4 linked regions of the Homo sapiens genome follow. The protein of the gene in region 1 purifies or fractionates together with the protein of each later gene. This does not show direct contact. Each region holds a gene or a part of one and is shown on either strand. Other genes may lie near its edges.

What was found.
Region 2: the proteins of MANBA (region 1) and MFSD2A fractionate together in Homo sapiens (co-fractionation; one large-scale study listed by BioGRID). This does not show direct contact.
Region 3: the proteins of MANBA (region 1) and SLC29A2 fractionate together in Homo sapiens (co-fractionation; one large-scale study listed by BioGRID). This does not show direct contact.
Region 4: the proteins of MANBA (region 1) and NIPSNAP2 fractionate together in Homo sapiens (co-fractionation; one large-scale study listed by BioGRID). This does not show direct contact.

The regions. Positions count from the first base shown.
Region 1 is NC_000004.12:102,635,386-102,639,601, forward strand, and holds part of MANBA (beta-mannosidase precursor), read right to left. Parts: intron 623-4,216; coding exon 480-622; intron 1-479.
Region 2 is NC_000001.11:39,965,145-39,967,937, forward strand, and holds part of MFSD2A (sodium-dependent lysophosphatidylcholine symporter 1), read left to right. Parts: intron 1-66; coding exon 67-190; intron 191-326; coding exon 327-405; intron 406-712; coding exon 713-870; intron 871-1,456; coding exon 1,457-1,547; intron 1,548-1,666; coding exon 1,667-1,788; intron 1,789-1,941; coding exon 1,942-2,025; intron 2,026-2,483; coding exon 2,484-2,567; intron 2,568-2,659; coding exon 2,660-2,772; intron 2,773-2,793. UniProt on the Homo sapiens protein: Sodium-dependent lysophosphatidylcholine (LPC) symporter, which plays an essential role for blood-brain barrier formation and function. Specifically expressed in endothelium of the blood-brain barrier of micro-vessels and transports LPC into the brain.
Region 3 is NC_000011.10:66,365,254-66,368,760, forward strand, and holds part of SLC29A2 (equilibrative nucleoside transporter 2), read right to left. Parts: intron 3,419-3,507; coding exon 3,284-3,418; intron 2,617-3,283; coding exon 2,519-2,616; intron 2,296-2,518; coding exon 2,211-2,295; intron 1,312-2,210; coding exon 1,178-1,311; coding exon of another isoform or gene 979-1,177; coding exon 873-978; intron 769-872; coding exon 683-768; intron 1-682. UniProt on the Homo sapiens protein: Bidirectional uniporter involved in the facilitative transport of nucleosides and nucleobases, and contributes to maintaining their cellular homeostasis. Functions as a Na(+)-independent, passive transporter.
Region 4 is NC_000007.14:55,967,585-55,971,221, reverse strand, and holds part of NIPSNAP2 (protein NipSnap homolog 2), read right to left. Parts: intron 1-3,637. UniProt on the Homo sapiens protein: Protein involved in mitophagy by facilitating recruitment of the autophagy machinery required for clearance of damaged mitochondria.

The DNA of each region.
Region 1 (4,216 bases):
CCTAAGACTTTGAGTTTCTAGCCTTTCTTTTTACTTAAATTTGTTTTTTAAAACAAATTTGCTTTCCACATGCGCATTCTGAATAGTTTTACTGATTTTCACTATAACATGCCATTTTTAACCATTTCTTTTTATAAAGTTTGGACTATTTCCAGCCTCTCACAATTATAAATAACCTTGCATTTAAGGGGCACATTATAGCATATGTGATTTGCTTTCATCTAGTTATTTTATTTCCTACTCATAGAAATCCTGTAAGAAGAGAGACTGGTATCATTTTACTGAGAAGAAATTGAATCAACAAGATGTGAAGGGTTTTGCTTATGGTCACATGATTAATGGCAGGGTTGTAGCCTGAATATATGTATTCTAACTCTAAATTAATTTCTCTTTTATTTTCCCAAAAGAATGTAACCAAACAACTAAAGAAATCATCTAAAAGTCTCCTTCGATCTTAGAAAACAATCCAAGTAACTTACACTGAGTGTCATCGAATAATCCGAGTGAAGATCTGACACACCATAGATATAGAACGTGTTTTCATTCTCAAAGCCTACTGGCAACAGTGGAGCAAAGAAATTCTGAGCAAAGTAATGAAGCATTTTCCACTTTCCTCCGTACTCTGAAAATAATCAAGAGTGTCAGGAGACGGCAAGGTCAAGTAGTCAGAGAGGCACTGTCCAATGGCCCAGCTGTTTGTGGCTCATCGGGGTTCTAAGGGAGTGAGCATGTGAGGGAGAGTCAACAGTGGAGGGCACCCATGTTTGTGAAGCGCTCTGAGCACTCTGGACATTATGTCATGTCACCCTCACAACATCTGGGCAGGCACTAACGAACCAGGGCAGGCATTAACGAACCATGCTGTTAGGCAATTTCATCATTGTGTGATCATAGAGTGTACTTAAACAAACCAAGATGGTATAGCCTACTACACACCTAGACTATATGGTATAGCCTGTTGCTCCAGGCTACTAACCTGTACAGCATATTGCTGTGCTGAATACTGTAGGTAATTCTAATCATAGAAATGGGACAGTGAAAATACAGTATTATAATCTCATGGGACCACCATCATATATGAACTGTGTTGTTGACTGAAATGTTATACGGTGCATGACTGTATATAATAACTTATAGATTCTAGGTAGCTATTGATTGCTTTAATATATAACCATTTCGGGTGATAAGAGATAACAAATACCTCCCCTACTGCACGCACTAGAAGCAGTGGATTTATTGAGCCAATCAACATGGGGCTGTGAGGCCCCCAGAGCAGAAGCAGATATAGAAAACTTGTCACAGCTTCTCCCGGATAACCTTTTTGTCTAATAAGTACAAGGAGCTGGTGATCCTCCTCAGGCAGGCAGGATCCTGCCAGGGTTTAGAAAACAGCCAAGCTCTGGTACTTGGGTTTTCCTACTGTAATATTATTATATATACATATATAATTTTTCTTCTACAGTTAGATATGGTTTGGCTGTGCCCCTACCCAAATCTCATCTTGAATTGTAGCTCCCACAATTCCCATGTGTTGTAGGAGGGACCTGGTAGGAGGTAACTGAACCATGGGGGCAGGTCTTTCCTATGCTGTTCTTGTGATAGTGAATAAGTCTCACGAGATCTGATCGTTTTATAAAGAAGGAGTTTCCTGCACAAGTCCTCTCTTACCCACTGCCATGTAAGAAGTCCCTTTGCTCTTCCTTCGTCTTCTGCCATGATTGTGAGGTCTTCCCAGCCATGTGGAACTGTGAGTCCATTAAACCTCTTTTTCTTTACAAATTACCAGTCTCAGGTATGTCTTCATCAGCAGCATGAGAACAGACTAATACAGGTTCCTAGCTCACAACTACCATAGCCCTTGTTACAGACTCTTGTTATAATGTTGAGAAGCTTTAGGACTCAAAAGCAGGCCTCAGAAAACAGAATCTATCTCTCTGATCTCCTTCCCTCCTTTCACCAGCCCAAGGCAGGTCTCTAATCCGATTGTGGGTCATAAGACACTCATTCAGAAGGTGTCCTGCCTCATACCCTGGAGGAGGAAATGCTTCACAGAGAGGCCAAGAAGCTGAATGGACAGGCCTTGCTGTGTTTCCCCACTCAGTCTAATGGTATTAGATCATACCCGCTTTGTCCAATCACATTTCTACATGGTTATCAATCATGGCTGTCCAATGAAGTCTCCCTATAACGCCCAAGAGGACAGAGTTCAAAGAACTTCCACATAGCTGACCATGTGAAGGCTGACAGAAAGAGGAACAAGTATTCATCTACATGCCTGGAGGGTGGCACACCCCAGCCTCACAGGGATAAAGTTCCTGCACTCAGGACCCTTCCAGACTTCACCCCATATATCTCTTCATACGGCTGTTTATTTGTGTCTTTTAAAACATCCTCTGTAATACAGCAGTTAGAATGTTTCCTTGAGTTCTGTGAGCCATTCCAGCAAATTAAACCCAAAGAAGGGGTCATGGGAACCCCAGCTTGAAGCTGGTCAGTCAGAAGTTCTAGAGGCCCAGACTTGCGACTGCTGTCTAAAGAGGGAAGGCAGCTTTGTGGAACTGAGTTCTCAACCTATGGAATCTGATGCAATCTGCAGGTAGATAGTGTCAGACTTAAATTGGAGGGCACTCGCATGGTGTCCACTGCAGAAGTGATTGCTTGCTTGGTGTGTGGGGGAAGTTTCCCATATATTTGGTCACAGAAGTCTTCTGTGTGGATTGTTGTTGTGGAGTGAGGGAATTAACAAAGCACTTTTAGGCCAGGTGCGGTGGCTCATGCCTGTAATCCCAACACTTTGGGAAGCTGAGGAGGGTAGACTGCTTCAGACCAGGTGTTCAAGACCAGCCTGGGCAACATGGCAAAACCCTGTCTCCAGAAAAAAAATACAAAAATGAGCCAGGCATGGTGGTATGCAGCTATAGACCCAGGTACTCAGGAAGTTGAGGTGGGAGGAAGGCTTGAGCCTGTGGGGTGGAGGCTACAGTGAGCCATGATTGCACCACTGCACTCCAGCCTGGGCAAAAGCAGAGTGAGACCATCTCAACAAAAAAACAAAACAAAACAAAAAACCACTTAGAGTTTGAGTGTCTTGTTTCCCACAGACCTACTCTTCCTGAGGAACTCAGGAATAATCTGCATGGGATCACTTAAAGGAATATTTACAAAAATTGGGCTCTCCCATTTCTTGAATCGAACTCAGTTTCAGTCCACAACCTCATCCACAGACAGAAAGCAGGATCAGTATCCAAGAGTCTCTGAACAGTTATCTCTTTGCCTACCTTTCCAGCATCCCAGAAGGATTTTCCCCCCAATTCTACCCCTGATTCTCATTCAATGCTCTCTTATCTGGTTGGTGCTGATAAAGAGTTTGGTCAGAGAAATTTGATTAGAAATCCAATTCTCTGTAAGAGTCATCCATCTGGCACTAATGAAAACATGTTTGGAATGAATTTCTTTTGATCTGCATTCACAGCCAGTTTAAGAGCCTCACCCCTGCACTCTAGCCTGGGTGTCAGAACAAGACTCTGTCTCAAAAAAAACAAAAAGAACCTCACCCAACCTTTCTACTTTGTGGCCTTGCCTCGTTTTTGACCCCAAACTATTCTTTACATTATTAACTGAACTTTGTTTCAAGTCATCTCTAGTGAAGGGCAAAGACTATTATTCCTTAATTTTTTTTAATGTACCAGAATAGATGGGATAATTCGAACTGCAGGTTCCATGCCAGTCATCTCACCTGTTGCTAGTTGAACTGTTTCAACTGGTCACCTTTCCCATTCGGGATTCTGCCTCTACTAGCTTTTCCCCAAGAGCTAAACAGGGCATAATAAAGATGGCCTTAAGAGACATCTTCATTATGTCCTTAAAGGACATCTTTATTTGTCCTTAAAGGTGAATCAGAGAAAGGGAAACTTTAACACATAAGCGGGCCAAACTTCTACCTGATTGAATTCTCCAACACAGAAGAAGGGATGCTTAAGTTCATGCTTCTTTAGCCCTGGAATGCCCTCTTAAATAAATTCAAAATTCTATGCGTAATAACAAGACACATGGCTGAGACTTTTGTATAGGAATCTATCCCATGCTTAGCCTGCTGTTGCAACTTTGCACAGCACAGAACCCATAATTAGGTTGACCCTAAGGCTCATGGAAAGGCTACTAAGGTGAGTTGGGTGGCTGTAGTTCCTAGGCAGGCTTTTTAAAGAATGACTCTTTT
Region 2 (2,793 bases), on another chromosome or scaffold:
AGACTGGGCTGGGCCTGGTCCTGGGCTCCAGCCTCCAGCCTCCACTCACACCCTCCTCTTCCTCAGGATCATCTTCTCCACGCCCCTGGCCGTCATTGCCTACTTCCTCATCTGGTTCGTGCCCGACTTCCCACACGGCCAGACCTATTGGTACCTGCTTTTCTATTGCCTCTTTGAAACAATGGTCACGGTGAGTGTGGGTACCTCCCTTGGGTGTCTCTAGGGGCCGGGAGGAGGGCGGTCCTTGGGGCCCCCAGGGTTGGTACTGGAAGCTACATCAGTGTGTCCACCCGCCTGACCAGCCAATGACCTGTCTTCTATGCCAGTGTTTCCATGTTCCCTACTCGGCTCTCACCATGTTCATCAGCACCGAGCAGACTGAGCGGGATTCTGCCACCGCCTATCGTGAGTCTCCCCAGCCCACCTGACCCCACCCTCCAGGGACCCTCCAGCCATACTTCTTCCCTTGCGGGTCCAGCTCTTTGCTCTGCTCTAGAGTGTGGGTGTGAAACCATCTTAAAAATAACTCAATCCCCTTATTGCTCAGATGAGACCTGGAGAGGTGCATATGCGTTCAAACCAAGGTGTCACCTACCCCACTACCTCTACCCACCCTGCCTGGAGCTACCGCTGGGCTCCCACCCATTTGACCTTCCTCCCTGGGCCCACAATCCATGAGGCCCCTCCAAAACACCTCCTTTTCTCCTGCCAGGGATGACTGTGGAAGTGCTGGGCACAGTGCTGGGCACGGCGATCCAGGGACAAATCGTGGGCCAAGCAGACACGCCTTGTTTCCAGGACCTCAATAGCTCTACAGTAGCTTCACAAAGTGCCAACCATACACATGGCACCACCTCACACAGGGAAACGGTGAGGCCCTGGGCAGGGCAGGGATTTGGGGAGATAAGGAACAGTGAGGTGGTTTGTAGTCATCCTAAAGATAGTAACAGCTAGTGTTTATTAAATAAATGTTGGGCATTTGATATACATAACAATTAATGCACCCAATATACCTACTTTGCAGAAAAAGAAACTGAAGCTTAGAGAGGCTGAATAAGTTGCCCAGAGTCATAAAGTTAGTGAATTGCAGAGATTTGGGAAGATTTGAATTCTGGGCTGTCAGACTCTGCAGCCTGGTTTCTGTTTTTTTCCTTTTATTATTATTTGTAGAGACGGGGTCTTGCCAAGTTGCCCAGGCTGGTTTCAAACTCCTGGGATTACAGGTGTGAGGGCTGCACTCAACCAGCCTGGTTTCTGAGCATGTTGTGAATCTTAACTGTCCAGCCTTGGGAAGCAACAGCAGGCCCAGGATGATCCTCCCATTTCACACATGGAGACAGTACGCTCCCAGAGGGGAGGGGACTGGCCCAAGATCATTGAGTGGGGCTGCTGGAACTGGGGTGCTGGGATGAGCTCAAACTGACCATCCTTGTATGTCGCCTTCACCTCCTTATAGCAAAAGGCATACCTGCTGGCAGCGGGGGTCATTGTCTGTATCTATATAATCTGTGCTGTCATCCTGATCCTGGGCGTGCGGGAGCAGAGAGGTAAGGGGGTGCCTGGGAAGGGGTGCAGGCCTCAGCATGGACAGCTGTATCTTTCTGCCTGGCCCTCAGGCTTTGGGAGGGGTCTCTGCTCCTTCCTCACTGTCCGCTCTGGCCCCCAGAACCCTATGAAGCCCAGCAGTCTGAGCCAATCGCCTACTTCCGGGGCCTACGGCTGGTCATGAGCCACGGCCCATACATCAAACTTATTACTGGCTTCCTCTTCACCTCCTTGGCTTTCATGGTGAGTGGGTTCTGACATGCTCAGCCTGAGAAGGAGGTGTAATGGGAGCGGGGTGAGCAGAGGTCTCTGGGGCTTGGGGGATGTCTTGGGGAGGCTCAGCCCCAACATCACCTCCTTCCTTGCATTTCCTTCCCTACCTTGCTCCATGCCCAGCTGGTGGAGGGGAACTTTGTCTTGTTTTGCACCTACACCTTGGGCTTCCGCAATGAATTCCAGAATCTACTCCTGGCCATCATGGTGAGTGGGACCTGAGCAGGGGCGGGCAGCCTGGGCTGAGGTGACATAGGCTGTGGAATGGTTCTTGGAATAGGCAGAGGATGTTTCTCAGGCTGGCCCAAGGTCATGAAAGGATGAGGGAGGCTTCTCAGGGTATTTGGTTGGACCTTGCGAAGGTAGGACTGTGAAAGAAAGAGTTTGAGGTTAGATGTTTGAGTAGTGAGCACAGCAAAAGCAAGGGCGAGGACACCAGGAACTTGGCTCAGAGGTTTGAGAGGGCAGCAGACAAGGTGGGCCTGGACCAGCTCTGAGCTCCCCTGGGGAGCCGTCAAAGGTGCCTGTCATCTTCGTTGCTGCCCACATGATGTCATCTGGCTGCTCTTGGGCAGGGCTGGGAGCCACTTTGGGGTTCTGGGAAGGGCAGGAGGGGCTCTGTGGCTCTAAAGCACCTCCCTTTAACCCCCTTTGTCCATCCACAGCTCTCGGCCACTTTAACCATTCCCATCTGGCAGTGGTTCTTGACCCGGTTTGGCAAGAAGACAGCTGTATATGTTGGGATCTCAGTGAGTGGGGTTGAAGAGCAGAGCCTGGGTTGAGTTGGGATGTCTGGTGGGAACCTCCCAGCTGATTCATCTTCCTGCACCCCCTTCCCTAGTCAGCAGTGCCATTTCTCATCTTGGTGGCCCTCATGGAGAGTAACCTCATCATTACATATGCGGTAGCTGTGGCAGCTGGCATCAGTGTGGCAGCTGCCTTCTTACTACCCTGGTAGGTATATACAGGCCCCCC
Region 3 (3,507 bases), on another chromosome or scaffold:
AGGATAGACCCATCTGTCACCCCCTGACCTCCTCTGACCTGACCTACCTTGTGAGCCAGTGAGGGAGGACCCAGCACTGGGGCCTGGGCCAAGTCCACCCAGAAATCAGGGACTGGCCTGGGGCTCACCTCTGCCTCTCCCAGGCTCCAGCTTGTGCTCTCCACCGCATCTACAGTTTACGTACTCGGTTCCTCAGAGCACCCACTGGTGGTTCCACAGACCCCCTTGGGGGCAGATGGGGTTTCTGAGTGGGATTGGAAGCTGTAGATCAGCTCCTGTCCTGACTTGGATGAGACCAGCTCCTCTTTCACCTGCGTTATGTATTGTCTCTTTGGAAGATTTCATTTAAAGATACAGTACCATGGCTAAAACCAACCCCAAAACTAAGACTCTTGCTCAGTCCCTCACCTGGTGCAGGAACCTCCATGTAACATTCTCTGAGCAGCAAAGGCTGGATGCTGGGGACACAGAGGTCAGCTGGACATGATTTTTGCTTTCAGGGAGCTCACAGTGCAAGCCCTGGCCTGCACGCCTCCAGGGCCCAAGTGCTCCCTGCTGCTTGGCCAGTGGTTGCATTACCAGGCCATTTGGACTACCAGAAAATCACCTCCATGCTCTTTCAAGCCCTCGGATCCCAAACTGCTTCCTAAAACATCGGATCACCCAGCCCTGGTGTGCTTACCCACAGGAAGTAAGAGGTCAGGCTCCGTCCCAGCCAGTCCATGATGTTGAAGAGGAGGAAGCAGCAGATGGGGTTGAAGAACTGACCTGGGAGGGAAACGGCTGCAGCTCATACTGGTCTCCAACTCCCCTCTCCCGTCCTCTCCCCTTTGTACCCCCTGCCCTGCCGTCTTCTCCACCCTGACACTCACTCCACTTCCCAGGACTGGTGGAGCTGGTCACCATGGCTGTGATGGCGGGGAAGACGGACAGGGTGACTGTGAAGACCAACACAAGGCACAGCGCTGTCAGCCAGATCTGGGAGCCAGAGGCAGGGGTGTGAGCAGGCAGGGCAGTCCCAGGGCCCCACCCTCTTGCCCAAGCCCCATGTGGGAGCAGGACACTTGGGGCCTGGCCCAGCTGTGTCCCTGACCCACTGTGACCCTATGACCTTGGAGTCAATGTGAGCCCCATTCTTCCCCAAAGATGGTGGTTGGGGGCTGTATCCAAGCCAAACCTTCTGGAAGACAGTGAAGACTGAAGGTTTTCCTGGCTTCTGGGGCTCATCTGGCTCTGATTCCGGCTCCTTCTCCAGGTCAAGATCCAGGGTCAGAGCTACTTTCTGGGGACTACTGGGAATCCCGTTCTCATCTGGGGTGAGGGGGGACGGGGAAGGGTCATGCTTGTGACCCAGGTTTCCCGACAGCCAGGCCCAACGAAGGGAGATTCCCAGCAGTTAAAACAAGTGATCCTCAGCTCAGCATGGTGGCTCACGCCTGTAATCCCAACATTTTGGAAGGCCGAGGCGGGCATATTGCTTGAGCCCAGGAGTTCGAGACCAGCCTGGGCAACATGGTGAATCCCCATTTCTACAAAAATAAAAAAATTAGCCGGGCATGGCAGCCTGCACCTATAGTCCCAGCTACTCGGGAGACTGAGGTGGCTCACTTGAGCCCAGGAGGTCGAGGCTGCAGTTGAGTTGTGATAGCACTGCAGTGCAGCCTAGGTGACAGAGTGAGATCCTGACTCAAAATAACAACAACCCCCTCACCCCAAAACAAAAAAAGGTGATCTTCCTCCAGCCTAAGCTGAGGCTGCAGGCGAAGGGAATTCATGATGGAAATATGCATAGCTACCAGGAAGCGCGTGCATGGGTCGGGTGATGAGCGAAGCACCTTAGATGGATTATCTCATTACCATTGCTTTACAAATGACACATTGAGGTTCAGAGGGGTGCAGTGGCTAAGTGGTTTGTCTCAGGCCACACAGCTGGGATGTTGTGAAACTAGTATTCCAATTCAGAGGTCTTCGGATCCAAAGTTTGCATGCATGGAACCTCTGTCGCCTCCCCATTTTATAGAGGTGGAAACTGAGGCCCAAACAACAGCAGGGATGACTTTAATCCTACCAACTTCCCTTCATGATCTTCCTGTTTGCACAAGGCTACTAGGGGTGGGCTCTGGCTGGGAACAGATGGAACAGCTTCCCAGGGGAGGTGGCTCTAGCTTCCTCTGCATCTCCCACCTCCCCAGGAGGGTCTCAGGGCTTACCAGACTGGAGGAGCTCAGCTTTGGTCTCCAGCTCCTGAGCTTGGGCCTGGGATGATTTATTGGCCAGGTAGTAGCGGGCAAACTTCTGCAGAAGGACAGGAAAGTGTTGGGCCTGCCTGGCTTGCCTGAGGTGTCTGGATCCCTCCCCATACCATTGGCCTGGAGGCTGGGGCCCCTCAGTGTCTTCTCTGGGGGTCAGGGCTGAGACCAGGTCTCCTCCACCTCCCCTGGCCTCTCTCAGGGCCTCAGGCTCAGGACTCTATCCAAGATGCTTTGAGGTGGGGCCTCGAGCCCAACAGCAGGCTCACCAGGTGAGGCAGGCTCAGGTAACACACGATGGACATGAGGATGCCCACACAGGGCGTGATAAAGTACCCCAGGGCAGAGGTCTCGGCGTCCACGCCACCTGCGGAGGAACTTCAGCTGCAGAAGAGAGGCACCTGGTCCCGCCGGCTCCCACGGGGCTTCCAACTCTTGTCCCACTTCCCATTGTGTACTTCTCAGACCCACTCCCAGCCTCTTCCGCTCCTCCCTTCACTGACAAATGGGAATCTTGTACAGGGCCCCAGAGCAGCCCTGCACTTCTCTCACTTTCCCCATGTGTCATTTTTGTTGAGCACGTACTATGTGCCAGTAGCCTTCTCTCATTGCATGCTCATTACAATCTGAGCAGGGAGCTATACCAATCACGTCGGTGGGGAAGCTAGCACAGAGAGGTGACAAGCCTTGTCCAACACCCCTAGCTGGTAAGCGGTGAAGCAGATTCAAACCCAAGACTATCTGAATCCCAAACCCATCCCCTTATCCTTCAACTTCAACCTGCTGCCACATGCCAGTATTAGCCCCAGGAATCCTGCCCCTGTCCCTGAGTTAACCCAGTCCTCACTTGGTTATTACTCCTCACTGCAGGGCCCATGAGCCCCACTCCCTAGCCCCAGACCCAATCCCCATTTCCATATCACCTGCTTACCTCCATCTTCACCCAGAACCCATGTGTCTTGCTCTCACATGCCCTCTCTCTTCCCCAAACCTCAGAGGCCACCCCAGCCCTCCAGCCACCCAAGTGCACTCACTGGCCATGGACAGGAGCATGGCAAGGGCAGCAAAGATCCCAGCCAGGCCCTGGCCGCTGAGGAAGAGGGTGCTGTAGGTGGAGGGCATGGTGCCCAGCTGCCCGAAGAGGCTGCCCTGTAGGACTGCACTGAAGGCTGTGGAGGACAGGGATGGGGGCTGCTGCTCAACTAGGCAAGACTCAGAGGCTCCCTGGAGGAGGTGCCGGCAGGATACACAGGGGACT
Region 4 (3,637 bases), on another chromosome or scaffold:
AACATGCCCAACCTATCTAGTCATTCGAGTCGCAGCTATGCCAACGGCTGCCCAAATGATAAGATCTGGCTTGGGCCTGGGTTCTTAACTGACAGTGACAATCGCCAAGATGGTAGGGGGCACTTTCCAGAGGATAAGGAAGGGTGCACTATACAAAACACTAGACTTGAAATCAAGTCAGCATTCTATGCCGGGCTCTATGGATACAAAGATAAACCAGATGCCAAGCCTATTCAGTCTCACAGGAAAAACCTATCAGTAAACAGCCAGAGTGGCCACAGATGCTGTAAACTTAGACATACACTGCAAGAGCTCAAGTGAACCCACCATCAGCTTGGCCTGGGAGGTGCAGGAGGGACTCCAGTAGGGGCACTCTGGCTCTGTTTTGGAGGGCAAGCAAGACAGGTGGAGAAGGCAGGTGCTAATTCCAGTCAATGGGAACAACATGTACAGGGACATGGAGTCATGACACTGAATGGCATATGTCTGGAATGGCAAGCTGTTTAGCAAGGCAGAAGAGCATGTGGGAGGACCGTGAGGGCGAGGCGAGGGCGACTTTATTCTGTGTAGGGTGAGATGCTGTCAAGTTTTCAAAAAAAATATAAGTGTCGGACAAGCGCAGTGCCTCATGCCTGTAATCCCAGCACTTTGAGAGGCCGAGGTGGGCGGATCATCTGGGGTCAGGAATTCAAGACCAGCCTGGGCAACATGGCCAAACCCTGTCTCTACTAAAAAATACCAAAAAAATGGCCAGGTGTGGTGGTGGACGCCTGTAGTCCCAGCTACTCGGGAGGCTGAGGCAGGAGAATCACTTGAACCTGGGAGGCGGACGTTGCAGTGAGCCAAGATCACGCCACTGCTCTCCAGCCTGGGCAAGAGTGCAAGACTCCGTTTCAAAAAAAAAAAAAAAAATCTAAGTGTCAAAAGCAGCCTGGCAGGAGCGTGGTATATGGCTGCAGCAACAAAGGCCAGGAACATGCTTCCTGGGCACCCTGGCTGCCATGCCCAGCAGCACCAGGTATGCAGAAGGCACTCAATAAATACTCACTAGATGGTCTGGGGTTAAGATGGCAGTGGGGATGAAGAGAAAGGAGTGCATTCAGAAGAAGCTTGTGAGTGCTGATCAGGCGGGGAAGAGGAAACTGAAGAAGGGAAAGGACTTAACGCTGAGACCACAGGATGAGGCAGCAGGAGCACACCGTGCTTCATTCATATGATCTTTTTTTTTTTTTTTTTTTTGAGACAGAGTCTCGCTCCGTCGCCCAGGCTGGAGTGCAGTGGTGGGATCTCGGCTCACTGCAAGTTCCGCCTCCCGGGTTCACGCCATTCTCCTGCCTCAGCCTCCTGAGTAGCTGGGACTACAGGCGCCCACCACCACGCCCGGCTAATTTTTTGTATTTTTAGTAGAGACAGGGTTTCACCATGTTAGCCAGGATGGTCTCGATCTCCTGACCTCGTGATTCGCCCACCTTGGCCTCCCAAAGTTCTGGGATTACAGGCGTGAGCCACCGCGCCCGGCAATATGATCACTGTTATTTACAGACTGTGCACTACACCTGTCAGCCACTGACGATGCACAGATGAACCTGGCCCTGACTTCACGGGAGCTCAGTTTGCTGGTGAGGGCAGACAGACAAACACGATCACAACTCAAACAGACAAGCTCTTCAATGATGACACAAGGAAGTAGGTAGCTGTTGTGGCATGGGTAAGGGCAGCCTGGGGGCCTGCTCTAACGAAGTACCTGTTGAGTGGAAGACTGGAAAGAAGAGGAGCAGATGGTCAGGTAGATACCCATGGAAGGGAGATTCTAAGCAGAACCAGTGAAGGCCAAAGACACAAGTGTGCAAACAGCACCAGCATTTGGAAGCACAGACCCGGGGGAGAGAAGAGGTTGACAGACCCATGCCAAGAAGACTCCTGCCTTAAAGCAGCAGCTCCCTGACTCCCCTCCCCACCACCACACTCCATCCAGCCCCAGTACCCCGTCTTCCACACTGCTGCTCCAGAGACCTGTTCCCACACCTTTCATTTCCAGAAACTTCAAACCCAGAGGAGTTTAAACATGACAAGACTTTTCTGCCCTGCATCTAGATTTTAAAAATGAACATTTTACCATTAAAAGTTTTTCTCTATATATATTTGCTTTTTAATTTCTTTTTTTCTTTTTTTTTTCAGACAGGGCCTTGTTCTCTCATGTCAGCTGGAGGGCAGTGGCGCGATCTCGGCTCACTTCAGCCTCCACCTCCTGCGCTCGAGCAATTACCTTGCTTCAGCCACCTGTATAGCTGGGACTACAGCCCTGCACCACCACACCCTGCTAAATGTTGTAGTTACCCTGCTAAATGTTGTAGTTTTAGTAGAGACAGGGTTTCATCATGTTGTCCACGCTGGTCTTGAGCTTCTGGCCTCATGTGATCCGTGAGCCTTGGCCTCCTACAGTGCTAGGATTACAGGTGTGAACCACCACACCCGGCCCTATATTTGCTTTTTAATTTCTACTGAACCATTTGAAAGTAGAGTTTTGGGCTGGGGGCAGTGGCTCACGCCTATAATCCCACCACTTTGGGAGACCAAAGCAGGCCAAGGCGGGCAGATCACGAGGTCAGGAGATCGAGACCATCCTGGCCAAATGGTGAAACCCCATCTCTATTAAAAATACAAAAAAATTAGCTGGTTGTGGTGGCGCACGCCTGTAGTCCCAGCTAATCGGGAGGCTGAGACAGGAGAATCACTTGAACCCGGGAGGCAGAGGTTGCAGCGAGCCGAGATCACCCCACTGCACTCCGGCCTGGGTGACAGAGCGAGACTCTGTCTCAGGAAAAAAAAAAAAAAAAGAAAGTAGAGTTTGGACATAATGATACTTCTCCCGTAAATCCTTCAGCATGTACCTCCAAAACACAATGACAGAACTACAATGCTATCATCACATCTGAGAAAAACAATTATTCCATCATATCTAATATCCACTCCCTATTAAAATATCCCCAGTTCTCCCCAAAATGTCTTTCATTGCTCTTGTGGGTAGGGGAATGGGGGCAGACAGGGAGGAGGGATTAGGAACCAGTCAAGGTTTGTGTCATAGAGATCTTTCTACTAGGAAAATGTCCGCTTAGAATTCTTTAGACGTGTGGCTGGGCACAATGGCTCACACCTATAATCCTAGAACTTTGGGAGGCGGAGGGTGGGAGGACTGCTTGAGGCCAGGAGTTTGAGACTAGCCTGGGGAACATAGCAAGACCCCCCTCTCTACAAAAAAATTAAAAATTAGCAGCCGGGTGTGGTGATTCATCCCTGTAATGCCAGCACTTTGGGAGGCCGTGGTGGGAGGATCACTTGAGGCCAGGAGTTTGAGACCAGCCTGGGCAACATGGAGAAACCCCATCTCTACTAAAAATACAAAAATTATCCAGGCGTGGTGGTGCACGCCTGTAAGTCCCAGCTGTTCAGGTAGCTGAGACAGGAGAACTGCTTGAACCCAGGAGGTGGAGGTTGCAGGGAGCCGAGATCACGCCACTGAACTCCAGCCTGGGCAACAGAGTGACACTCTGTCTCAAATAAATAAATAAATAAATAAATAAATAAATAATAGCTGGGCATGGTGGTGTGGGCCTGTAGTCCCAGCTACTTGGGAGGC